Homo sapiens: one gene and its partners. The protein of the gene in region 1 purifies or fractionates together with the protein of each later gene. This does not show direct contact. Each region holds a gene or a part of one and is shown in the gene's direction. Other genes may lie near its edges.

What was found.
Region 2: the proteins of MYH7 (region 1) and TAF11 purify together in Homo sapiens (affinity purification with mass spectrometry; one large-scale study listed by BioGRID and IntAct). This does not show direct contact.
Region 3: the proteins of MYH7 (region 1) and POLD1 purify together in Homo sapiens (affinity purification with mass spectrometry; one large-scale study listed by BioGRID and IntAct). This does not show direct contact.
Region 4: the proteins of MYH7 (region 1) and MFGE8 purify together in Homo sapiens (co-immunoprecipitation; one large-scale study listed by IntAct). This does not show direct contact.
Region 5: the proteins of MYH7 (region 1) and ATP6V1D purify together in Homo sapiens (affinity purification with mass spectrometry; one large-scale study listed by BioGRID and IntAct). This does not show direct contact.
Region 6: the proteins of MYH7 (region 1) and PPP3R1 purify together in Homo sapiens (affinity purification with mass spectrometry, with the first as the bait; one large-scale study listed by BioGRID). This does not show direct contact.
Region 7: the proteins of MYH7 (region 1) and CLINT1 purify together in Homo sapiens (affinity purification with mass spectrometry; one large-scale study listed by BioGRID and IntAct). This does not show direct contact.

The regions. Positions count from the first base shown.
Region 1 is NC_000014.9:23,415,451-23,418,660, reverse strand, and holds part of MYH7 (myosin-7), read left to right. Parts: intron 1-254; coding exon 255-451; intron 452-597; exon of another isoform or gene 598-674; intron 675-974; coding exon 975-1,158; intron 1,159-1,287; exon of another isoform or gene 1,288-1,342; coding exon 1,343-1,508; intron 1,509-1,652; exon of another isoform or gene 1,653-1,668; coding exon 1,669-1,793; intron 1,794-2,348; coding exon 2,349-2,657; exon of another isoform or gene 2,658-2,660; intron 2,661-2,828; coding exon 2,829-3,032; exon of another isoform or gene 3,033-3,040; intron 3,041-3,154; coding exon 3,155-3,210. UniProt on the Homo sapiens protein: Myosins are actin-based motor molecules with ATPase activity essential for muscle contraction. Forms regular bipolar thick filaments that, together with actin thin filaments, constitute the fundamental contractile unit of skeletal and cardiac muscle.
Region 2 is NC_000006.12:34,878,043-34,881,542, reverse strand, and holds part of TAF11 (transcription initiation factor TFIID subunit 11), read left to right. Parts: intron 1-1,166; coding exon 1,167-1,254; intron 1,255-1,479; coding exon 1,480-1,576; intron 1,577-2,822; coding exon 2,823-2,953; 3' UTR 2,954-3,500. UniProt on the Homo sapiens protein: The TFIID basal transcription factor complex plays a major role in the initiation of RNA polymerase II (Pol II)-dependent transcription.
Region 3 is NC_000019.10:50,387,347-50,390,846, forward strand, and holds part of POLD1 (DNA polymerase delta catalytic subunit), read left to right. Parts: intron 1-313; exon of another isoform or gene 314-458; intron 459-3,500. UniProt on the Homo sapiens protein: As the catalytic component of the trimeric (Pol-delta3 complex) and tetrameric DNA polymerase delta complexes (Pol-delta4 complex), plays a crucial role in high fidelity genome replication, including in lagging strand synthesis, and repair.
Region 4 is NC_000015.10:88,900,782-88,903,379, reverse strand, and holds part of MFGE8 (lactadherin isoform a preproprotein), read left to right. Parts: exon of another isoform or gene 1-1,197; intron 1,198-1,644; coding exon 1,645-1,829; intron 1,830-2,598.
Region 5 is NC_000014.9:67,346,305-67,349,804, reverse strand, and holds part of ATP6V1D (V-type proton ATPase subunit D), read left to right. Parts: intron 1-700; coding exon 701-768; intron 769-2,351; coding exon 2,352-2,396; intron 2,397-3,500. UniProt on the Homo sapiens protein: Subunit of the V1 complex of vacuolar(H+)-ATPase (V-ATPase), a multisubunit enzyme composed of a peripheral complex (V1) that hydrolyzes ATP and a membrane integral complex (V0) that translocates protons.
Region 6 is NC_000002.12:68,218,033-68,221,532, reverse strand, and holds part of PPP3R1 (calcineurin subunit B type 1), read left to right. Parts: intron 1-3,500. UniProt on the Homo sapiens protein: Regulatory subunit of calcineurin, a calcium-dependent, calmodulin stimulated protein phosphatase. Confers calcium sensitivity.
Region 7 is NC_000005.10:157,849,146-157,852,645, reverse strand, and holds part of CLINT1 (clathrin interactor 1), read left to right. Parts: intron 1-3,500. UniProt on the Homo sapiens protein: Binds to membranes enriched in phosphatidylinositol 4,5-bisphosphate (PtdIns(4,5)P2). May have a role in transport via clathrin-coated vesicles from the trans-Golgi network to endosomes. Stimulates clathrin assembly.

The DNA.
Region 1 (3,210 bases):
ATGGCGGTGATGATGACCATGTCTGGTGTGGGGAGGAGCTCAGGGCCAATGGCCATGAAGCTTTTCTTAAATAGTTCACTGCTGTATTGGCATTCTTTGTTATCAGCAAACAGTAAACCATGACAGGTCCACTGGGGGTTTGGACATAGATGAGGCCAAGGGATGATGTTGAGATTGGGGTGAGGAGAAGGGCAAGGGTGGGGTTGCTTTATGGAGAAAGCTGAACCCACCTCCTGGTGCCCACCCCTCCCCAGGCGAAGAACGCCCTGGCCCACGCACTGCAGTCGGCCCGGCATGACTGCGACCTGCTGCGGGAGCAGTACGAGGAGGAGACGGAGGCCAAGGCCGAGCTGCAGCGCGTCCTTTCCAAGGCCAACTCGGAGGTGGCCCAGTGGAGGACCAAGTATGAGACGGACGCCATTCAGCGGACTGAGGAGCTCGAGGAGGCCAAGTGAGTTCTGAGCAGCCTGACTTCTGGCTGAGGCCCCTTTGCAGGCAGGACTCAGCCCAGCCCCAGCCTCAGCAGATCCCACACAGGCGATGCTTAGCTAGTGTTTGACAACACAGGAGGACTCTGCCCCGGCCCCACCTCCTTCTCCTCTCAGGGAAGCTTTTTGCTCGAATTATGTTTCTGATCCGAATATAAGACGAACAAAAGGTTTGTCTGAGGGCAGAGTGCTTCCGTCTGGGGCAGGGCACTGTGGCAGGGAAAGGCAGTGGGGAGGGCTGCAGAAGCCCATACCTCCTCAATGTCCATAGCGCAGAGGCTGGGCCAGGGTCAGAGGGTGCCTGGGTCTCCACGCCCTGCTGGGATCCTCTGCCTGATGTTCTCGGCCCCTGGGACCTGTCCTCAGGCTTCTCCAGCTACACTTCTGAGGTTTCAAGGATTGTCTTTGAGAAGGTTCATGTTGTTTCCTCTTGTCCCCATCCACACCCTCCATCCTCCCCACCCTCTGCCACCCTCCCCTGGGCAGGAAGAAGCTGGCCCAGCGGCTGCAGGAAGCTGAGGAGGCCGTGGAGGCTGTTAATGCCAAGTGCTCCTCGCTGGAGAAGACCAAGCACCGGCTACAGAATGAGATCGAGGACTTGATGGTGGACGTAGAGCGCTCCAATGCTGCTGCTGCAGCCCTGGACAAGAAGCAGAGGAACTTCGACAAGGTGGGCCCTGGGTGGGGGCCGCAGCCAGCATGCAGGGCAAGGGGGCATGAGGGGTTCAGTGAGAGGCCAGAGCCATCCTCCTTGGAGGTGGGGGAGGAGGGCTGAGCCCAGGCAGGTCCTGAGACAGACCCTGGACATGGGGCTGAGGCTGGGGGGCTGAAGAGTGAGCCTTGTCCCCGGGCAGATCCTGGCCGAGTGGAAGCAGAAGTATGAGGAGTCGCAGTCGGAGCTGGAGTCCTCGCAGAAGGAGGCTCGCTCCCTCAGCACAGAGCTCTTCAAACTCAAGAACGCCTATGAGGAGTCCCTGGAACATCTGGAGACCTTCAAGCGGGAGAACAAAAACCTGCAGGGTGTGCTGGGGGCCCAAGAGGCTGGGGAGGGGCTGCACTGGCAGTGTTCCCATATGGTGCCACCCAAGGGCTCCAAGAGGCGTCTGGGCAAAGAGGCGTGTCCCTCCAACTCCACTGGACCTCAGCAGCCCTCAACCGAGTTACCGTGTTCCCCACACAGAGGAGATCTCCGACTTGACTGAGCAGTTGGGTTCCAGCGGAAAGACTATCCATGAGCTGGAGAAGGTCCGAAAGCAGCTGGAGGCCGAGAAGATGGAGCTGCAGTCAGCCCTGGAGGAGGCCGAGGTGTGTGTGTGTGCAGGGCACGGGGTGCAGGGAGCTGAGCTCCAGGCTTTTGGTCCCTGTTCTCATCCCCCGCTTTGTCCGTTTTGTTCACTGTCCCATCCCCAGAGCCTAGGACAGAGCCTGGCACATAGTAGGCATTCAGTGAAGATTTGTGGAGTGAATGAATGACCAGTCACTGAACTCTCTTCACATAAACATTTTACCCATTGCATCTTAGCTGAGCTTCCCATTTCCACATACCTCCCGGTTCCCACCTCTGCCTCCCTCTGTTTTCTTTTATACTCTATACCTGATTGCCTCTGTTTCCTTGGCAACACTTTTCTCTTCATTTTCCTCCTTGTCTTCATAGCTGGCTCTCCCCTGTGAGGGCCTGAATCACTTTCTCTTAGGCTTATTTTTATTTTCTCTTAGATTCTCTTTTCCTCCACCTTCTGCTTCTTTGAACCACTTACACCACTCTTGAAGTCACTTCGTATCCATGATTAGTGAGCAGGCCCCCACCCTGCCCTGTGCCCTGACTGTCTGCCTGCATCCCCTCCCCCAACCCCTTCCCAGGCCTCCCTGGAGCACGAGGAGGGCAAGATCCTCCGGGCCCAGCTGGAGTTCAACCAGATCAAGGCAGAGATCGAGCGGAAGCTGGCAGAGAAGGACGAGGAGATGGAACAGGCCAAGCGCAACCACCTGCGGGTGGTGGACTCGCTGCAGACCTCCCTGGACGCAGAGACACGCAGCCGCAACGAGGCCCTGAGGGTGAAGAAGAAGATGGAAGGAGACCTCAATGAGATGGAGATCCAGCTCAGCCACGCCAACCGCATGGCCGCCGAGGCCCAGAAGCAAGTCAAGAGCCTCCAGAGCTTGTTGAAGGTACTCACCCAGAGGGGACTGGCCTCCACGTGGCCTGGCGAAGCAGTAGTGTCTTGATACAGGCACCAGATTCCTCCTGCCCCTAGGTTACTGCAGGGACCTCTGACAGGTGCCTTTAGTGAAGGGAACCGAGGCTGGCTCCCTGCTCATGCCCACTCTCCTGATCCTCAGGACACCCAGATTCAGCTGGACGATGCAGTCCGTGCCAACGACGACCTGAAGGAGAACATCGCCATCGTGGAGCGGCGCAACAACCTGCTGCAGGCTGAGCTGGAGGAGTTGCGTGCCGTGGTGGAGCAGACAGAGCGGTCCCGGAAGCTGGCGGAGCAGGAGCTGATTGAGACTAGTGAGCGGGTGCAGCTGCTGCATTCCCAGGTGAGCAGCTCCCCTGCTCATTCCTGAAGGGAGCACAGGCTGGGGCTCAGCAAGCAAGGCTTGAGAGCTATGCATAGATGCTCAATGCTTTTCCTGCTCTGCCCAACCCTCCCCCAACCCAGAACACCAGCCTCATCAACCAGAAGAAGAAGATGGATGCTGACCTGTCCCAGCTCCA
Region 2 (3,500 bases), on another chromosome or scaffold:
ATGTCACTAATTATACATCTAGGTCATAGTTTTCTTAAAAATAGAAATAGCTTTATTACATTTTCTGATTGTAAAAGTAGTATGGGCTCATTGCAAATAATTCAGAGAATACAGAAAAATAGAAAAAAATCACCCATAAACTCACCACGCAGAGTTCACTCTAAGTATATAGTTGGGTATAATGTTTGGGTATGTACCTTTTCAAAGTTTTTTTAGATGTTTGATATGTATAGCTAAATATTTTCATGTCAGTAAATATGCTCATAAATCATAATTTTTAATGGCTACATTGTATCCCATTATGTTGTTGAACTATAATTTAACCAATCCCTATAGTGCTTCTGGTTGGGTATTTTTACTTTTGACATTATGATGAGGATCTTTGGACATATCTTTGCATACTTGTCCATTACTTCCTAAGATAAACTCCTAGAGGTGTAATTGCTAATTCAAATAGTATGAACATTTTCAAAGGCTTTTCATATGTATTTCCAAATTTCTCTCCAAAAAGGTGTTCCAGTTCACTCTGCCAGCATGTGTTTGTGTCCCATATTCTAATACCATTCTTTTTTTAATAGTGGTCTGATTTATGAAAAATGTTATCTATGAAAATAATATTTCCTTAGTTAATAATGAAGGTTGTTTCCCCCATGTTGATTGACCATTGGTATTTTGGTAAATTTCCTGTTCATGTACTTTGTTCATTTTCAAAAATTGACATGGCCCCTTTATTCATTTGAAAGAATTATACATTAGGAGTATTAACTGTTTCCACATATTTTGCAGATATTTCCCCTAAATCTGTTAATGTTGAAAACTACTGGTTTGATTATAAATTTGTATATTAAATTTTTACCATCAGTGTGAAATTCAATAAGATAGAGTTATGGAGATAGTGTCTAATGCTGCAAACAGTCTGTGTAGTACGATACAGTGACCCAGTGTTGTTCTTTTTGTTAACAGGTAAGAAAAGAAGTTTTTGTTTTACGTTTTCTCAAATTCCTTTGGAGTAGAAGTGTTTTATCTTCATTCCTCAAGGCACCAAGCCTAATGCCATTGACCCCTTTAAGAATTCGTTTTTGAATTGTCTGAAACTTTTATTGACTTCATAATATCTTGAGTATTCGTTCTTATAAGTTAACTTAGTTACCTGGATCTTTGTTTAGAATCCTGGTTTCTTCTTTTTCTGAGGAGCAGCTGAACCGTTATGAAATGTATCGCCGCTCAGCTTTCCCTAAGGCAGCCATCAAAAGGGTAAGGATGGACCACCACACTTCATCTCCATCACGTTTTAGAACTGAACTCAAGAGCCATGTCCATTGGCATTTGAAGTGAGGTGTTAGACAAGTCAGGGGATTATTTAGGTGGGAAAAAAAATGCACTTCAGTTATCTTACCTTTTTCTGTGAATTACTTGGTACTGTGTTCCAAAGCCAGTCTTTGACTATTGTGATCACGGAGTCTTTGTGCTTCTTTCAAGCTGATCCAGTCCATCACTGGCACCTCTGTGTCTCAGAATGTTGTTATTGCTATGTCTGGTATTTCCAAGGTTTTCGTCGGGGAGGTGGTAGAAGAAGGTGAGTAGTGTTGGTTACAAATACTGGATTGTACCTGTGGTGGTCTTATTTTTAAGAATATCTACACAAAGGAGCTTATTAAAGCACCTATGGGAGTTCTCATTTGCACTTGAAGTTGACCAAGTGGGGAGCCCTTTATTTAGGAGAACATGACTGTTATTCCTTGCAAGTTTCAATAACAGATGGTAAGGAACCATCTGGGAAATCCCCTCCCTGATTCCTTTCCTCAGCCCAGGGTGAAAGAAGTAGACTTTGTATTTTCTGCAGTGGACTTTGCTCATTTCTGCTGCCAAAAGTAAAGATACAAGAAAAGCAATCACAGGGGTGACCTGTGTGGGATGGTGAGTTGTCCCTAATGTTGTGATCCCTAGGAACTGCCTGACCCCTTTATTGAGTAAAAAGCCTGGCTGTTTCCCATTGCTACTCTAGCTGGTGAAATTTTTTTTTTTTTTTTGAGCAGGAGATATATACTTTTAAATTATTATTATTTTTTGAGACAGGGTCTCACTCTGTCACCCAGGCTGGAGTGCAGTGGCATGATCTTTATTATTTTTTTTAATATTTTTTATTTTTCCTTTTACAAATCACAAATTAAGATGGTATACAAAATGAGATGGTAACAGTGGTGTGATCATAGCTCACTACAACCTCAAACTCCTGGGCTCAAAGGATCCTCTTGCCTCAGCCTCCCAAGTAGCTGGGACTGTAGGCGTGCACTACCATACCTGGCTAATTTTTAATTTTATTTTTATGTAGTTATTTGAGACAGGGTCTCACTCTGTCACCCAGGCTGGAGTGCCTTGATCATGCGATCACAGCTCACTGTAACAGTTAGCTCCTGGGCTCGGGTGATTCTCCTGCCTCAGTCTGAGTAGTTGAGACCACAGGTGCGCACCACCACCCCTGGCTAACTTTTTAATTTTTTGTAGAGACAAGGTTTGGCCATGTTGCCCAGGTTGGTCTCGAACTCCTAGGCTCAAGCAATCCTCCCACCTTGGCCTCCCTAACTGCTGGGATTATAGGCATGAGCCACAGCATATGGCCTATAGGAAATATATTTTAAACTGTTGTCTATGATAAAGCCTGTTATGAGACGTTATACTAATATTCTCTTAAAAAGGAAAAATGTCTGTTTATTTCCTTAGCAAGCTTAAGAAAAGTTAACAAGAATTACAGGACTCAAAAGGATTATGTGATTAGTAAATTATTGTGTGATAATCAGACTTTCTCCTTACCCTCTGTTTAGCACTGGATGTGTGTGAGAAGTGGGGAGAAATGCCACCACTACAACCCAAACATATGAGGGAAGCCGTTAGAAGGTTAAAGTCAAAAGGACAGATCCCTAACTCGAAGCACAAAAAAATCATCTTCTTCTAGACCAAAGTCTAGAAAGGCCTATGTTACTGACGGAAGAAGTATTGGTTCCAGACTTCCTATAAGACTGTCTGCATTGGTGCTTTAGTATCTCAGGCCTCCAAGGATTCCATGATGATTTTAATGTCTTTCTCAAAACTCTGATATTTGTCACACCTAGAAAGTATGTAGCCTGATTGATACTTGCCTTGACTAAATTTTGGGACCTCTTGGGGCATTTTGAAGTATTTAACTGTCTTGACCAGTTGGAAGAAGATACGTGGGCCATAAGCATCTTCTGGACAGGGGAACTGCTTTCAGAGAGAAAACCTTTCCAAGAGAGTTTTGTTTTGTTTTGGTTTCGTTTTGTTTGAGATAGGGTCTTGCTCTATCACCTAGGCTGGAGTGCAGCGGCATGACTGCAGCCTTGAACTCCTGGGCTTAAGTGACCCTCCCACCTCAGTCTCCTGAGTAGCTAGGACTACAGGCACACACTACTGTGCCCAGCTAACTTATTTTTATTTTTTATGGAGATGGGGTCTTGCTTTGTTGCCCAGGCTGGTCGTGAACT
Region 3 (3,500 bases), on another chromosome or scaffold:
GTGTCTCACTCATCGAGAAAACTGGTGTCTGGCCTGCAGCGAGCACGTGGTGTCATTTTGTTGCTGAATCTCTGTTAAGTGCTTGCTACCGAAGGGTCGTGAGAGGGGCAGAGGACAGTGTTTGCCAAGCTCTCATCCTGTGCCAGGGCCAATGAGAGGGGACACACAGGGGCCTTTCCTTCCTAATGCTGCTGTGCCTCCACTAACAAGAGCCCAGGTTTTGCCCCTGGTGACACCGTCCCTCCCACCGCACCCCCGCAGCCACAGCCAACTGACCAAGGGCAGCCAGTCAGCTCCTTCCTTCCTCCTCCAGCTTCAGCACTGACTCTGGGCTCCCACAAGCCCCTGCGCTTCCTCTGTCCCACCCGGGTCTCTCCTCGCAGATCATCACTCCCTGTCCCTCTCTGGCTACTTGCACAACCCGAAGCCAGAGCCGCTAACGACGCTTGCTTCTTCCTGTAAGTCACACATGTACGCGGTTGTCACCCAAAGAGCACAAACGCAGTCAAAGTCTTCCTCACACAAAACCCCCTGCACACGCTCACGGCTGCACCACTCACAAAAGGTGGAAGCAACCCTAATGTCCATCCACTGATGAAGGGATACGTCAGACGTGTTCTAGCCATACAGCGGAAAAGTACTCAGCAAAAAAGGGACACAGCACTGACGAAAGGCCGCCACACACATGAGCGATGAACACATTCAGAGAAAGCAGCCAGACACAAGAGGCTGCATATTCCAAGATCCCATTTATAGGAAATGCCCAGAATAGGCAGATCCATGGAGACAGAAAGTTAGATGAGTGGCTGCCAGGGGTGGGGGCAGATGGGCTGAATGCAGGGAGAGAGCTAAAGGATTTAGGCTTTTTGGGGTGATGAGAGAGTTCTAAAATTGACTGTGGTGATGGTTGCCTAACTCTGAACATACTAAATACCATTGAACTATATATACTTTAAATGGGTGAATTGTATAGTATGTGAATTATAGCTCAATAAAGCAGTTAGCAAATGAAGTCTTCTACCCTGTCCCCCAGGAAACCAGTTTCTTAGCTCTCCTTATAGAATGATGCATTAAAAGCAAATAGATTTATACATATGCCCTGCATTACAATAAAAAAGACGTCTACATACTCCCTGCATTACAATAAAAAAGACGTCTACATACTCCCTGCATTAAAAGCAAAAAGATTTCTACATACTCTTCTGCCCACCTTGTAAATTTGTTACTATTTTCATTTTATATATTTCCCCCTTAATATTTTGAAAAGTTTCAAACCTGCAGAGAAGGTACAAATTGAGTACAGTGAACAGCCATGGCCCTTTGCCTAGATTCACTGGCTGTTGGCATGACACCTCATTTGCTTTATGCTTTATCCAAGCACATGCATATACCTGTACCTTTTGTCCTTTTTTTGGCTGAACTATTTGAAAGTTGTGGTCATCATGATACTTCACCTCTGAAAACTCCAGCAGTTAACTCTTTTTTTTTTTTTTTTTTTTTTTTTGAGACGGAGTCTTGCTCTGTCACCCAGGCTGGAGTACAGTGGTGCGACCTTGGCTCACTGCAACCTCTGCCTCCCAGGTTCAAGCGATTCTCCTATTGCAGCTTCCTGAGTAGCTGGGACTATAGGCGCGCACCACCACATCTGGCTAATTTTTGTATTTTTAGTAAAGATGGGGTTTCACCATCTTTGCCAGGCTGCTCTTGAACTCCTGACCTTATGATCTACGTGCCTCTGCCTCCCAGAGTGCTGGGATTACAGGCATGAGCCACCGCACCTGGCCTCTTTTTTTTTTTTTGGTACAGTATTTTACTCTGTCATGCAGGTTGTAGTGCAGTGGGGTGGTCACAGCTCACTGCAGCCTCGACCTCCCCAGGCTCAGCTGATCCTCAGCCTCTCGAGTAGCTGGGACTAAAGGTGTGTGCCACCACACCCTGCTAATTTTTATATTGTTTATAGAGACAGGGTGTCACCATGTTGCCTAGGCTGATCTCAAACTCCTGGGTTCAAGCAATCCCCCTGCCTCGGCCTCCAAATGTCCTGGGATTACAGCCGTGAGCCACCGTACCTGGCCTCCAGCAGTCAGCTCTTAAGAACAGGGATGTCCGCCTGCAGAACTACAGTGTCATTGTCATCATCATGCAGTTTAACATGAGACAGTGACGTTATTGAATAGACGATTCTTATTTAGATCTGCCACGTGTCCCTGTAATATTCTTCAAGGCTATAAATAATTTCTTATTTTTTTTTTTTTTCCAAGACTGAGTCTTGCTCTATCGCCCAGGCTGGAGTGCAGTGGCACTATCTCGGCTCACTGCAACCTCTGCCTCCTGGGTTCAAGCCATTCTCTTGCCTCAGCCTCCCGAATAGCTGGAATTACAGGCATGCACCACCACGCCCGGCTAATTTTTTTGTATTTTTTGTAGAGACGGGGTTTCATTTTGGCCAGGCTGGTCTCGAACCCCTGACCTCAGGTGATCCGCCCGCCTTGGGCTCCCAAAGTGCTAGGATTACAGGCGTGAGCCACCATGTCCAGCCTGTTTTTTTTTTTGTTTTTTGTTTTGTTTTTTTTTTCTTTTTTGAAACAGAGCCTCATTGTCACCCAGGCTGGAGTGCAGTGGTGCGATCTTGGCTCACTGCAACCTCCACCTCCCAGGTTCAATCAATTCTCCTGCCTCAGCCTCCCGAGTAGCTAGGATTACAGGCGCCTGGCACCACGCCCAGCTAATTTTTATATTTTTAGTAGAGACAGGGTTTCACCATGTTGGCCAGGCTGGTCTCAAACTCTTGACCTCAGGTAATCCACCCACCTCAGCCTCTCATAGTGTTGGGATTACAGGTGTGAGCCACTGCGCCTGGCCAATAATTTCTTTTTTTCTTTTCTTTTCTTTTTTTTTTTTCAAGTTACATGAAGTAAATTTATTATTTACAGCTAGGCAACAAGGGAAAACCGAAGCATAGGATTCATTGTGAGCCAATCTCCCGAGACTCAGGAAGGTTGCCCCGGGAGGATGGAGTCTCATTTGTGTGTACCCCATTTGTACCTGGAAAGCAGACCATCTTGGGTTTTATATTCTGGAGGCAACATGACATGTTGGGCTAAAATGATGAAGGACATCCTGTTTCTAGGAGGGACTGGAACAGAGCCTGGGCTGTTTCAGCCAGTCCCTCCTTATCTCAGGATATTGCATTCCTAGCACATTCTACAGTTATTCTTGAGAACTATTTTTTTTTTTTTTTTAGTATTTATTGATCATTCTTGGGTGTTTCTTGGAGAGGGGGATTTGGCAGGGTCATAGGACAATAGTGGAGGGAAGGTCAGCAGATAAACAAGTGAACAAAAGTCTCTGGTTTTCCTAGGCAGAGGGCCCTGCGGCCTTCCGCAGTGTTTGTGTCCCTGGGTACTTGAGATTAGGGAGTGGTGATGACTCTTAAGGAGCATGCTGCCTTCAAGCATCTGTTTAACAAAGCACATCTTGCACCGCCCTTAATCCATTTA
Region 4 (2,598 bases), on another chromosome or scaffold:
CCCTAGTATCTCATTTTATAGATGGGGAGACTGAGAGCCAGAGAGAGGAAGGGACTTCCTAGAGTGCTGGAGCTGACAGTCCTGTCCCTGCCCTGGTGCCCCTTCCAACTGCATTTTACCAGAAAGGCTGTCTGACTTCCTGGGGAGGCTGAGAGTGAGGAGGGTATGAACCACTAGAAGCAGATGATCTGTAGAGGGGTCTGCGTTGAGCACATTGTGCAGAATTGGTGTCCTCTGCAAAGCTGCCCAGGTTTTAGCCTGCCTCAGGCCTCTCCTCTTCTGGGGCCAAGGGACAACCAGCTCTCAGCCCGGGAGCCTCTCTTTGAGGGGGAAGGTGGTGGTTCCCTGGTGCATCACCATCAGGAGATGATGGTACCATCAGCAGGCATTGTCAACACACCCTGGAGGCAAATGTCTTGAGTGGTGAGAGTACAGGTGGGCAGTGATATAACTTAGCTGGCTCCCAGTACTCTTGAGTGGTGAGAGTATTGGAGGGCAGTGATATAACTTAGCTGGCTCCCAGAGGGCAGGGGGCTCTCCAGTCCCACCGTCCACTCCTGCCTCCCTCAATTCCCCAGAGGGATAGACACTTGTGGAGTGAGGATTCTTCCAGGTGGGAGACACCCCCATCATTCTCTTGGGAGTTGTATCTCTTGCCCATCCCCAACTGTTCTATCCATATGCAGGTGCAGATACAAGTGCAAGGCAGCCCGGCACATTCCTGAGTGTTTGGGGCAGGGCTGAGTGAAACAAAGGCCAGCTTCCCGGGCCAGCCCTCACAGGCCTGTGTGACAGCATCCCCAGAACATTTGAGTGTGCGAAGGCCCTCTGGGAGACACTAAGTCAGGGGGCTTCTGGGGAATGGAAATAGAGATGTTCCTGTGCCCCAGGAGTTGTCTGATTTCTCTAACTGCCAGCTGCTGGAGGGCAGGGATGTTGTCCTGTTCATCACTGGGTCGTCACTAGGCAGGCCTTCATCATCTAGCTGGGATGTGTAGCTGGTAGAGGTGACGTCATAGTGTGACATTAGGAGTTTGTATGTGACTTGAGCATGATGCTTAATGTCTTTCAGTTTTCTCATCTATAGAATGGGCTTACTAATTTCTACTTCATTTAGTGTTTTTTTTTCTTTTTTTTTTTGGTGGCAGGTTAAATGACTGAAGTAAGCACTGAATAAACAATGTGGTTGTTATTAAAGTAGATAGTGACTGTGCCATGGGACGGATGGGAGGCCGAGGCGATGGGGGCAGTGCTGTGAGTCCAGAAGAGGAAGAAATCCTGCCCAAGTGAAGTAGTCAGGGCAGACTTCTTGGAGGAGGTGTCTCCAAAGTCAGGCATTGAAGGAGGGCAGGAGGTGGTGGAGCAGGGGCCTTCCCTGGTGCAGAGGAGAAGGGTGGTGAGTGGGAGGTCTTGGGTGATCTGTGAGGAGCTGAGCCCGGCTGGTTGAGGTGAGGAGGTGGTGGGGTCGGCAGTGAGAAGGTCGCACAGTTGGCCCTGCAAGGCGGATGGAGCTGCTTTCTGTTGCCCAAGAGCATGACAGGGGCTGGTCAGGATCCACAGAGTTCTTTCTGCTTCATCGCCTTGTGCTCCTGCCCCTGGGAGCTGTGGATCCCAGATCCAGATGACAGCCCACCTTGCTGGCAGGATGCGCCAATCCCCTGGGCCTGAAGAATAACAGCATCCCTGACAAGCAGATCACGGCCTCCAGCAGCTACAAGACCTGGGGCTTGCATCTCTTCAGCTGGAACCCCTCCTATGCACGGCTGGACAAGCAGGGCAACTTCAACGCCTGGGTTGCGGGGAGCTACGGTAACGATCAGTGGCTGCAGGTGGGTCAGCCTTCTTGGGATATGGGGCTGGGGTTGGGTGGGATGAGGTGGGACTGCCAGATCTTTGACCTCTCTCCAGCCCAGGCTTCTCTTCTGCTCCCCAAAAGAGTTCTGGAAAAGCCTTGTTTTTCTTCGGCTTTTCTTTCTTCTTCCCACCTGTACTCCCTTCTCTTGATCCTGCTTCCACCAAGGTGGAGAAAGGGTGTGTGTGTGTATGTGTGTGTGTGTGTGAATGTGTGTGTGTGAGTGTGTGAATGTGTGTGAATGTGAGTGTGTGTGAATGCGTGCGTGTGAATGCGTGCGTGTGAATGTGTGTGTGAATGTGTATGTGTGAATGTGTGTGTGTGAATGTGTGAATGTGTGTGTGAATGTGTGAGAATGTGTGTGAATGTGTGTGTGAGAATGTGTGTGTGAATGTGTGTGTGTGAATGTGTATGTGTGAATGTGTATTTGTGAATGTGTGTGAATGTGTATGTGAATGTGTATGTGAATGTGTATGTGTGAATGTGTGTGAATATGTGTGTGTGAGAATGTGTGTGTGTGTGTGAATGTGTGTGTGTGAATGTGTGTGTGTGAATGTGTGTGTATGTGTGTACACAAGGGGAGAGCCATTCCATGGGCTGCCACAGGATTGACAAGGCTCAGCCTATGGACAGACAGCAGGGCGGAGGCGGAAGAGGGAGACATGACCCAGGCATCTTGGGACCTCTCCCTTGAGCACAGCATACATATTCTCTGACTCAGTGTCTAAGAAGCCACCATGTGACAG
Region 5 (3,500 bases), about 44 Mb from region 1:
TAGCAGAGGGTGGAGATCAATCAATAGTGTATAAGTGGTATGTGAGTGTTTTAGGGTGGTTATGGGGAAGATACTTTCTATAATATTTATTTTTGTTTTGTTTTGAGATTGGGTTATGAGACTGGCTAATTTTTGTATTTTTGAGTTTCACCACATTGCCCAGGCTGGTTTTGAACTCCTGGCCTCAAACAATCCTCCTGCCTCGGCCTCCCAAAGTGCCAGGATTACAGGCGTGAGCTATCGCACCCTGCCAGGAAGGCACTTTCTGGTAACATTTGAGAAGTCACACAAAGCCAGATGGAACATAGTTTCCAGGGTAAAGGAATTGAACGCCAGCTTAACCAATTCAATAGCAAACCTAGAAAGGAGTTTTCTCTATCTCACACTAGCAGAAGAATCCTTAAAGTTATATCCATGTAGCACACCTCTGACTGAAAACATAAGCAATCCACGAACTTTAAAATCATTCTTTGTTCTTTTCTTACTGCTAATGTTTTGAATATTGTTCATTCTCTGCTTTCAGAGGCCCTCCTCTAGCAGTAATGACTTTTCTCCCTTTTTGGAAAAAGGACAGTTATCAAAACATACTTAATTGTGACATCTCACTCTTGGTCTCATTTAATGTTAAAACTATCCAGTGGGTCCCTGTAGGTTTATTTCTGAAGAGTCTGCTAAATAAAGTCTTTCTCTTTTTCTGCAGCACTACAGTTATCCAAAATGTCAATAAAGCGCAAGTGAAGATTCGAGCGAAGAAAGATAATGTAGCAGGTAACGTTTCAACCTTTTAGAAACCCTTTGGGGAGAAAAGAGGTGACATTTTAAAATTAACCTGTTTATACAGCAAGATCTTAATGTCCTAGTTTCTTCCTTCTACTTAGAACAAGTTGATTGGCTTTACATGTTAAAATCATTAACAACCAGGTTTCTAATTACTCAGGATAACTTGACTTTTGTATAGAAGTGAACACTTAAGAAGGCAGGTTCCGGCTGGGCACGGTGGCTCATGCCTGTAATCCCAGCACTTTGGGAGGCCGAGGTGGGCGAATCACAAGGTCAGGAGTTCGAGACCAGCCTGGCCAACATGGTGAAACCCCATCTCTACTAATAATACAAAAATTAGCCAGGTTTGGTGGCACGCGCCTGTAGCCCCAGCTACTTGGGAGGCTGAGGCAGGAGAATCGCTTGAACCCGGGAAGCGGAGGTTCCAGTGAGCCGAGATTGCACCACTGCACTCCAGCCTGGGTGACAGAGCAAGACTCTGTCTAAAAATAAAAAATAAAAAAATAAAGAAGTCAGGTTCCACTGGATGTGGTGGCTCACACCTGTAATCCCAGCACTTTGGGAGGCTGAGGTGGGCGGATCACAAGGTCAGGAGTTCGAGACCAGCCTGGCCAACATGGTGAAACCCCATCTTTACCAAAGAATACAAAAATTAGGCCGGGTGTGATGGCTCACACCTGTAATCCCAGTGCTTTGGGAAGCCAAGGTGGGCGGATCGCCTGAGGTCGGGAGTTCGAGACCAGCCTAATATGGAGAAATCCTGTCTCTACTAAAAATACAAAATAAGCCAGACGTGGTAGCGCATGCCTGTAATCCCAGCTACTTGAGAGGCTGAGGCAGGAGACTCACTTGGACCCAGGAGGCAGAGGTTGTGGTGAGCCGAGATTGCGCCATTGTACTCCAGCCCAGGCAACAAGAGCGAAACTCATCTTTAAAAAAAAAAAAAAATTAGCTGGGCATGGCATGTGCCTGTTGTCCCAGCTACTCAGGAGGCTGAGGTGGGAGAATCACTTGACCCCAGGAGGCGGTGGTTGCAGTGAGCTGAAGACCACACCACTGCACTGCAGCCTGGGCGACAGAGTGAGACTCTGTCTCAAAAAAAAAAAAAGAAGGCAAGTTCCTAAATTCATTAATTGAAACCAATTACAATTCCATACTTAAGCTCTTGATTTTTGAGTTTGATGAAAAAGAAACACAGAAAACAGTGATTAAGAAACAGAATTTAGGCCAGGCGCGGTGGCTCATACCTGTAATCCCAGCACTTTGGGAGGTTTAGGCGGGTGGATCACCTGAGGTCGGAAGTTCAAGACCAACCTTACCAACATGGAGAAACCCCGTGTCTACTAAAAATACAAAATTAGCCGGGTGTGGTGGTGCATGCCTGTAATCCCACCTATTCAGGAGGCTGACCAGGAGAATTGCTTGAACCTGGGAGGCAGAGGTTGCGGTGAGGCGAGATCACGCCATTGCATTCCAGCCTCGGCGACAAGAGCAAAACTCCGTCTCAGAAAAAAAAAAAAAAGAGAGAACTTAAAGGTTTATGAATCCATGTATGCTTCTGTGTTTAACAGGTGTTACTTTGCCAGTATTTGAACATTACCATGAAGGAACTGACAGTAAGTGTGAAACTTTTTGTATTACTTTGTGTCTCTGGGATTTCCTGTTTCCTCTTTAAATGAACTAAGTTCTGGAAAATGGTGCTAGATGTTGAGAGGTTCCTGAGTTAGAAATCCTCTTATTTGATATAGTCAGGACAATAGTTGATCAGTTAATCAAAAGGTCTTAAGGCCGGGCACAATGGCTCATGCCTGTAATACTGGCACTTTGGGAGGCTGAGGCAGGCAAATCTCCATCTCTACAAAAAATATAAAAAATCAGCCAGGTGTGGTGGCACGTGCCTGTAGTTTCAGCTACTTCCAGGGCTGAGGAGGGAGGATTGCTTGAGCTGGGGAGGTAGTTGCAGCGAGTTCTGATCACGCCACTGCACTCCAGCCTGGGCTACAGAGCAAAACCTTGTCTCAAAAAAGAAAAAGGTCTTATGCTAGGAAGTCATAAAACATTATACATATCTTAAAATATTTCAATATTTTATCAGAAATATATCAATGTAGAATCACTTGCTATTTAAAAAATATAAGGCCTTTTGAATATGAATTCACTGATTAGACTTCTGTGTTGTTTTTCTGCATATCCTACACCCACAATGCACTGCTTATAATTCCCAGTTTGGGTCTCTTTAAAGTCAAATAAGATCTTAGACACTGATGCAACCTGAATGCTGATTCTTTCTAGATTTTTATAGCCCACTTCCACTTTTTAAATAACTGTCTTATTCATTCCATTCCTAGTTTGACAGCATATTTTCTTTCCAAAGTAAAGTATTAACTTTTTTCATAGAAACAATATTCTTGGCCAGGCACAGTGGCTCACACCTGCAATCCCAGCACTTTGGGAGGCTGAGGCAGGTGGATCACCTTAGCCCAGGAGTTTGAGACCAGCCTGGGCAACATGGTGAAACCCCGTCTCCACCCAAAAAGTTACAAAAATTAGCTGGGCCTGGTGGCATGCGCCTGTGGTCCCAGCTACTCGGGAGGCCGAGGTGGGAGGATTGCTTGAGCCTGAGAAGTGGAGCTTACAGTGAGCTGAGATCGCACCACTGCACTCCAGCCTGGGTGGCAGAGTGAGACCCCATCTCAATAAATAAATAAACAAATAATATT
Region 6 (3,500 bases), on another chromosome or scaffold:
AGTGAACAGTTCAGTGACATTTGTTTATTTATTTATTTACAAAGTCTTGCTTGGTTGCCCAGGCTGGAGTGCAGTGGTGTGCTCAAGGCTCACTGCACCCTTGACCTATCAGGCTCAAGCAGTTATCCCATATCACCCTCCTGAGTAGCCGAGACTACAGGCATATGCTAACATGCCTGGCTCGTGTTTTTGTTTTTATTTTTGAGGTGGAGTCTCGCTCTGTTGCCCAGGCTGGAGTGCAGTGGTGCAATCTCTGCTCACTGCAGCCTCCACCTTCAGGTTCAAGAGATTCTCTTGCCTCAGCCTCTCGAGTAGCTGGGATTACAGGCACCCGCCACCATGCCCAGCTAATTTTTGTATTTTTTGTAGAGACAGATTTCACCATGTTGACCAGGCTGGTCTTGAACTCCTGACCTCAAGTGATCTGCCTGCCTCGGCCTCCCAATGTGGTGGGATTACAGGCGTGAGCCACCATGCCTGGCCTTTTTTGTATTTTTTGTAGAGACAGTGTTTTGCCATGTTGCCCAGGCTGGCATTTATAATGTAGTACAACCACCACCTCTATGTCATTCGAAAATATTTTCATCACCCTAAAAGGAAACCCCATAGCCAAAAAGTAATTGTTCACCATTCCTCCTCCCCCAGCAACTGGCACCCACCAGTCTCTACATTCTGTTTCTGTGTAACTGGCACCCACCAGTCTCTACATTTTGTTTCTGTGTATTTTCTTTATCAGTATATTTCATATAAATGGAATCATAAAATGTGGCCTTTTGTTTTTGGCTTCTTTTACTTACCATGATTTTGAAGTTCATCCATTTTATAGCGTCCTATTATGTTTTATATTGGATGTCATACATACATTGTGAATCTTATGCTGTTGTGCTAGATTTTGTTTTATTCCTTTAAAGAACGTAAGAGTTTGTTTTGCCATCCACTTAAGTTACTGAGACCCAAATTTGATCTGAGATTTGTTTTCTATCTTTCTTAAGGTAAGTAAAGAACAGCCTTTAATTCATGGCCAATATAGTCGTTCTGAGGACTGGACCCAATTCCCTGTGTATTTACAAGTTTCTCCAGTTTGGCCCATGGGATCATGAACTATTCCTAGCTCTGTGCAAACTCCCAAAAGTTATTCAACCTGCTACTAGTTCTTTTCCTGGACTTGGGGAGTTTCCTCTCAAACTTATGCAGAGACTGGAGGAGACTTTTATGCAGATCTCCAAAGTTCTCTCATGTGTCTCCCTTTTCTGAAGTACTCTTCCTCACAAGTCTCACCTCCTTGGCCATACGAACTTCATGTATCTCTGACTTCTCAATTTGGCGATGTCTCGGGATTGTGTTTCTGTTCTCTGTTCCTGTGCTGCAACCTGGAAACTTTCTCCAGACAGTAAGCTGGGACATAGATCCTAAGGGCTTTACCTCTTTTGTTTTCTTATATAGATGATCACAGAAAATGCCTGATAAATGTTGTTTGATAAAATTTTTCTGATTTACTAGTTTTTTTTAACACTGGTCAAGTGGTTCATATAGCATTTCTCCCCCATGGGCAGATGTTACTGAATTTTTAAATCAGTATAGTGTAAGGGGAGTCTATCTTGAACTTCAGGCAAATGGATTTATTTAAGGACCTCATCAACAAGTGATCTTGTCAGTAACTTGGTCATGTGGCATGATGTTTGAATTCTTCAAGTGTTCTTATGTAAACTTAAAACATGTTAGCTTTAGGACTTTTTTCATATTTAGATATAATTTTATGGTTTTGTTTAGTTGAGTGGTTCTCTTAGAAGTAAATGTCAGTACCTTATTGGGTATGTCTCTCACAGTATCTATCATTATTTTAGTATTTCCCAACCCTAGACTGGAGCTATTGGCTACAAATTCACTGCAGAATTAATTTACCTTCAGAAATGCTATTTTTTCCAGTTAAGTCTGATATAATAATTTACAAACTGATGTGTATTTTTTGTTAAATGTAATTATGCATTAGGTTCAGGGATCAATAAACTATAGCCCACACACCAAACCTGAATGAAACAATTACTGATAAATGTAATACTCCCAGGTAGTAGCTTAAGAAGCTGAACGTGAGGGGGTGTGGAGAGGAGTATAAAGGGGAATCTCCAAAACTCCTGTTTTTACTAATGACTAAGCATGAGGAAGACTGAACGTGGAACAAAATTATATTGACCATATTGACAAAATTATCTTTATATTGCCATGTTTTGCTTTGGTTTCCTTTTTTAAATGGAAGGTAGACTATGAAGACATTCTTGCTGTGAAAGTTCAAACAATACAGAATTTGAAGTAAAAAGTGGGGAGTGTAGGATAGAGATGGTGGTGCTGTTTGGGAGAGTGACTACAGAGATACGAGTTCTCTTAATTAAAGGACTTTACTTAGCTTTCTAAAGAGTGTTGGTTTTTATTCTGAAGGCAGGTGGGAGCTATTGAATTTTAGCAGAGATGTGATGTGGTCAGTTTGGGACAGATTGTGGTTGCAGTAGTGTTTTGGATATATGCATTCCAAGTTTAGGAGCAAGACGAGTTATTCTTTGTTAATGGGAAAGTCCTTAGGAGCCCTGGACTGGTTGGTTCTTAGGTCTTGTGGACGTTGTCTAGTTGGGAATGATACAGATAAATAGGTGAGATAGATGGTATCATTTAGAAAGAATTGATAACACTGTAAAGGTCAGTGAACTGGAGAAACAAGGACCTGGTTTTAAAATCCTGCTTGAAACCACCACATAACACTTTTTTACCTTCACTTATAAAACAGTAATGATACTTATTTAAAAAAAAAAAAACTCACAGTGACAGTGCAAATTTTAGTAAATAAAATACCGGTATGCTCTTGAGAGTCTTGCAAGAAACATACTTAACTTTAAGGTGGAGTGGAATAAGGAAAAAAAAACATTAAAAAAATTAAGACAGCAAGAATATGTAAGGCAGTGAAGATAAGAATCATGGTAAGAATATTAAGATCAATTAAGTAATGTGCAAAGTAAGCAGAAATCCATCTCTGTTCATTAATATCAAGCTTTATTAATGTTTGCTTTCTTTTATCCTCACTTTAACATATTTGATATTTAAAGTGACCTAATATTAAATTAACCAGTTCTGGAAAATTGCAATTATCTGCTATAACTTGCAAGAAAAAGACTAGCTATTGGCAATATGTCAGTTAATTGAATGTGGTAATTTACTGATTAGCCTTTAAGTTTACATAAGATTAAAGGTACGTTGAGGAGTTTAAAAGCCAGCCAGTCATACTAAAAAAAAGAATTCAGGTTTTCAGTAGCTTCTGAAGATATATATTTAAATATGCCCATGTTAATTGTACACTTAAATTAATAGCAACTGTATACTTACTGCTATTTAATTGCTAGGCAGGGTCAAGGTTAGATAAATAGAATATAGGATGCTTCGTATTCAATTTACCACTGAACTTTAAAAACTTAATTTATATTACTTTAAATTCTGTAGACGTTTTTAAAGACCTT
Region 7 (3,500 bases), on another chromosome or scaffold:
ATAGAGATGATATTTTATAGGATTATGAGGATTAAATGTGAAACAGTATAGTACTTGACATACAGTAAACTCTTGAAACATCTATTACTGTTATTACTGTTACACACAAAACAGTATAACACTAGAAAAATCAAAGGAATACAGTGTTTGTGAAAATAGAGATATCATTGTCAGACTAGGTTATTTGTAAGTATGTAGGAACTATATCTTCATCCATGAAATCATTATTTTCAGTGAGTACTCTCTCTTAAGACTCAGTTTAGCCTACATATAGGACAGCTAATTTAAATACCTCTGTTGTTTATGCCTTGTATTATTTTTGCTAAATCATAAATGGCTTCTACTTTAATATTGCAAAGCATATTGCAGAAATACCCTTTCAAAAGACATGTTGAGGAATAAAGTCTTTGGAAAGACATATCGCGAATTCCATCTGCCAATTCTTAATATTTTGTTCAGCTTGTTTTGTGTATTCTCAAGATTTTAAAGTAACTGCTAATGTAAAACATTACTAAAACATAAAAAGATTTATTTCATAAATGCAAATTGAAGCAGACAATTTATTCTTAAGAGACTGAACAATATCAAGAAAAAGAATCCTCTAAAATATGTGATACCAAATTCATGGTGTTTGACAATGGACAAACAGTATATACAAGGAAAGCACATTGGAGAAAGGGCTTTCTGGTTATTCAACCCCTCAAATTGGCAAGAAATTATTTGGCTTACCAGGGCTCTTTTGCCTGAAAATTAAATACAGGTAAAGGAACGTAATATATTCCTATGTTTGAGCCAATTTATAGCTACTTATTACTTGTGGATAGATTTAGCTAACGAATTATTAAATGTGAGTGATTTTGTTAATGTGCAACAGTGCACATGAATGGTTTGTACTTCATTTAAGAAGAGTCTAGTTAGCCAATTTTAGAATATTTCATTTCTTTTTTTTTTTTTTTTTTGAGACGGGGTCTTGCTCTGTCACTCAGGCTGGAGTGTAATGGTGCCATCTCTGCTTCAGCCTCCTAGGTTTAAGCGATCCTCCCAAGTAGCTTAAGCGATCCTCCCAAGTAGCTGGGACGACAGACACATGTCACAACACCCAGCTAATTTTTGTATTTTGGTAGAAATGGAGTTTTGCCGCATTTCCCAGGCTGGTCTCGAACTCCTGAGCTCAAGCAATCTACCCACCGTGGCCTCCCAAAATGCTGGAATTGCAGGTGTGAGCCACTGTGCCTGGCCTAGAATATTTGTTTTGACATGAATTTTATTTAGCTTCTCAATTCTTAGGACAGTATTTAAGTTCTAGATAACTTTAATATAAATAATCTTTTATAATTTTGCACACACTCATCATTATGTGGTAAACGTACATGCGTGCTTTTTCAACAACTATTGAATGAAATGTTTCATTCAAGAATTCTCATTCAAATAGCTTATATTTTTATAGTAGAAAAAAGGCATGCATTGAAAATTCAATTTTCGGGTTTTTTGTTTGTTTGTTTGTTTGCCATTTGTTTTCATGCATTTTTAGTAAATCATTAAAGAACAGTGCAAGGCCAGGTGCCGTGGCTCACAACTGTAATCCCAACACTTTGGGAGGCCGAGAAGGGAAGATCTCTTGAGCCCAGTAGTCCAAGACTAGCCTGGGCAACACAGACCTTGTCTCTACAAAAAAATTAAAAAATTAGCCGGACATGGTGATGCATGCCTATAGTCCCAGCTACATGGGAGGCTGAAATGGGAGGATCACTTGAACCCAGGAGTTGAAAGCTGCAGTGAGCTGTGATTGTGCCACTGCACTCTAGCCTGGGCAACAGAGTGAAACTTTGTCTCTAAAAAAATTTTTTTTAATATTAAAAAAAAGAACAATGCTAATAGGCATACTGAGCCTTTTTCTATTAATTTTTCTCATACTAATTTTTCATTTATCACTTTTTAAAGTGACTTAGGTTATACGGTTGAAACTACATGTCTTAATTTGTAGTTAAACCCCCATGGTTAAATAATTTTTTTTTTTTTTTTTTTTTTTTTTTGAGACAGGGTCTCACTTGTACCCAGGCTGGAGCGCAGTGGCATGCACGATCTTGACTCACTGCAGCCTTGACCTCCTGGGCTCAATCCATCCTCCCACCTTAGTCCCCCAAGTAAGAGGGACTACAGGTGCTTACCACCATGCCCGGCTAATTTTTTGTAGAGATAGGGTTTCATCATGCTCCCCAGGCTGGGCTCAAACTCTTGAGCTCAGGCAATCCGCCCGCCTCAAGCCTCCCAAAGTGCTAGGATTATAGGCGTGAGCCACTGTGCCCAGCCAGTAATATCCTTAGTTTGATGTATTTGGCTTATAAGTTCGGTACTGAATGGGGCTTTGAAGGATGGCCTGTTTCTCACTAAGCATGTAAAATGTTTAGCCCTGTCATCTGCTGTCCACTCAGCAGCGAGAGGGATTCTTTAAAAATACTAAGTCAAATGGGTTCAGAATTCTCCAGTGGCTTCTCATCTCATTGCTTAATTGCCTGTACAGATCTGGCTCTTTGTTGCCCCGCCTGTGATCTCTTCTCCCACCACTGTCCCTCACTTTCTCTGTTCTGTTCAGTGGACCTCCTGTATTACATAGTATGCACTCACACTCGTCACTATTTTTTTCTGTGCTTGCCTTCCTCTGTTACATGTATTCATCTCCTGCCTCTGATATGCAAGTTCCTTGAGGGCAGGAACTTTGTTTTGTTTACTGCTGTATTACTAACTCTTAGAACAATTATGACACATAGTAGGCGCTCAAATATTTTTGAATGAATACATTAAATTTGGTAAGTTGATATTTATTACAGAGGATATCCTTTAAATCCAGATATTTCTAATAATAAAAGCTAATAGTTATTGAGCATTTGCCATGTGCCAAGAACAAAGGTGACAACATTGTTATGTTCAATTTTCTTATGAGGAAATTGGGCACAGAATGCCAAGAGTGTGCCACAGATAGCACATCTAGAAGATAGTCTAGATTTAAATCTAGATGATATACTTTCAGAATATGTATTTAGCAGTTTATGCTAATCTTTTACAAGACATCATGTAAACAAAAAAATTGTTATACAGGCATACCTCAGAGATATTACAGGTTTAGTTCCAAACCACTGCAATAAAGTGAATATTGGAATAAAGCAAGTCATACAAATTTTTAGTTTCCCAGTTCATATAAAAGTTATGTTTCCACTATGTGGTAGTCTATTAAATGCACAATGGTATTATGTTTAAAAAAGTACATACCTTAATTTAAAAATATCTTATTGCTAAAAAGTACAGCCATCTGAGCTTTCAGCAGGTATTTATCATTCTGCTGGTGGAAAATCTTGCCTCCATGTTGATGGCTGCTGACTTATCAGGGTTGTGGGATTGCTGAAGTTTGGGGTGGCTGTGGCAATTTCTTAAAATAACAATGAAGTTTTCTGCATCATAGATTCTTCCTTTCACAGATGATTTCTCTGTAGCATGCAATGCTG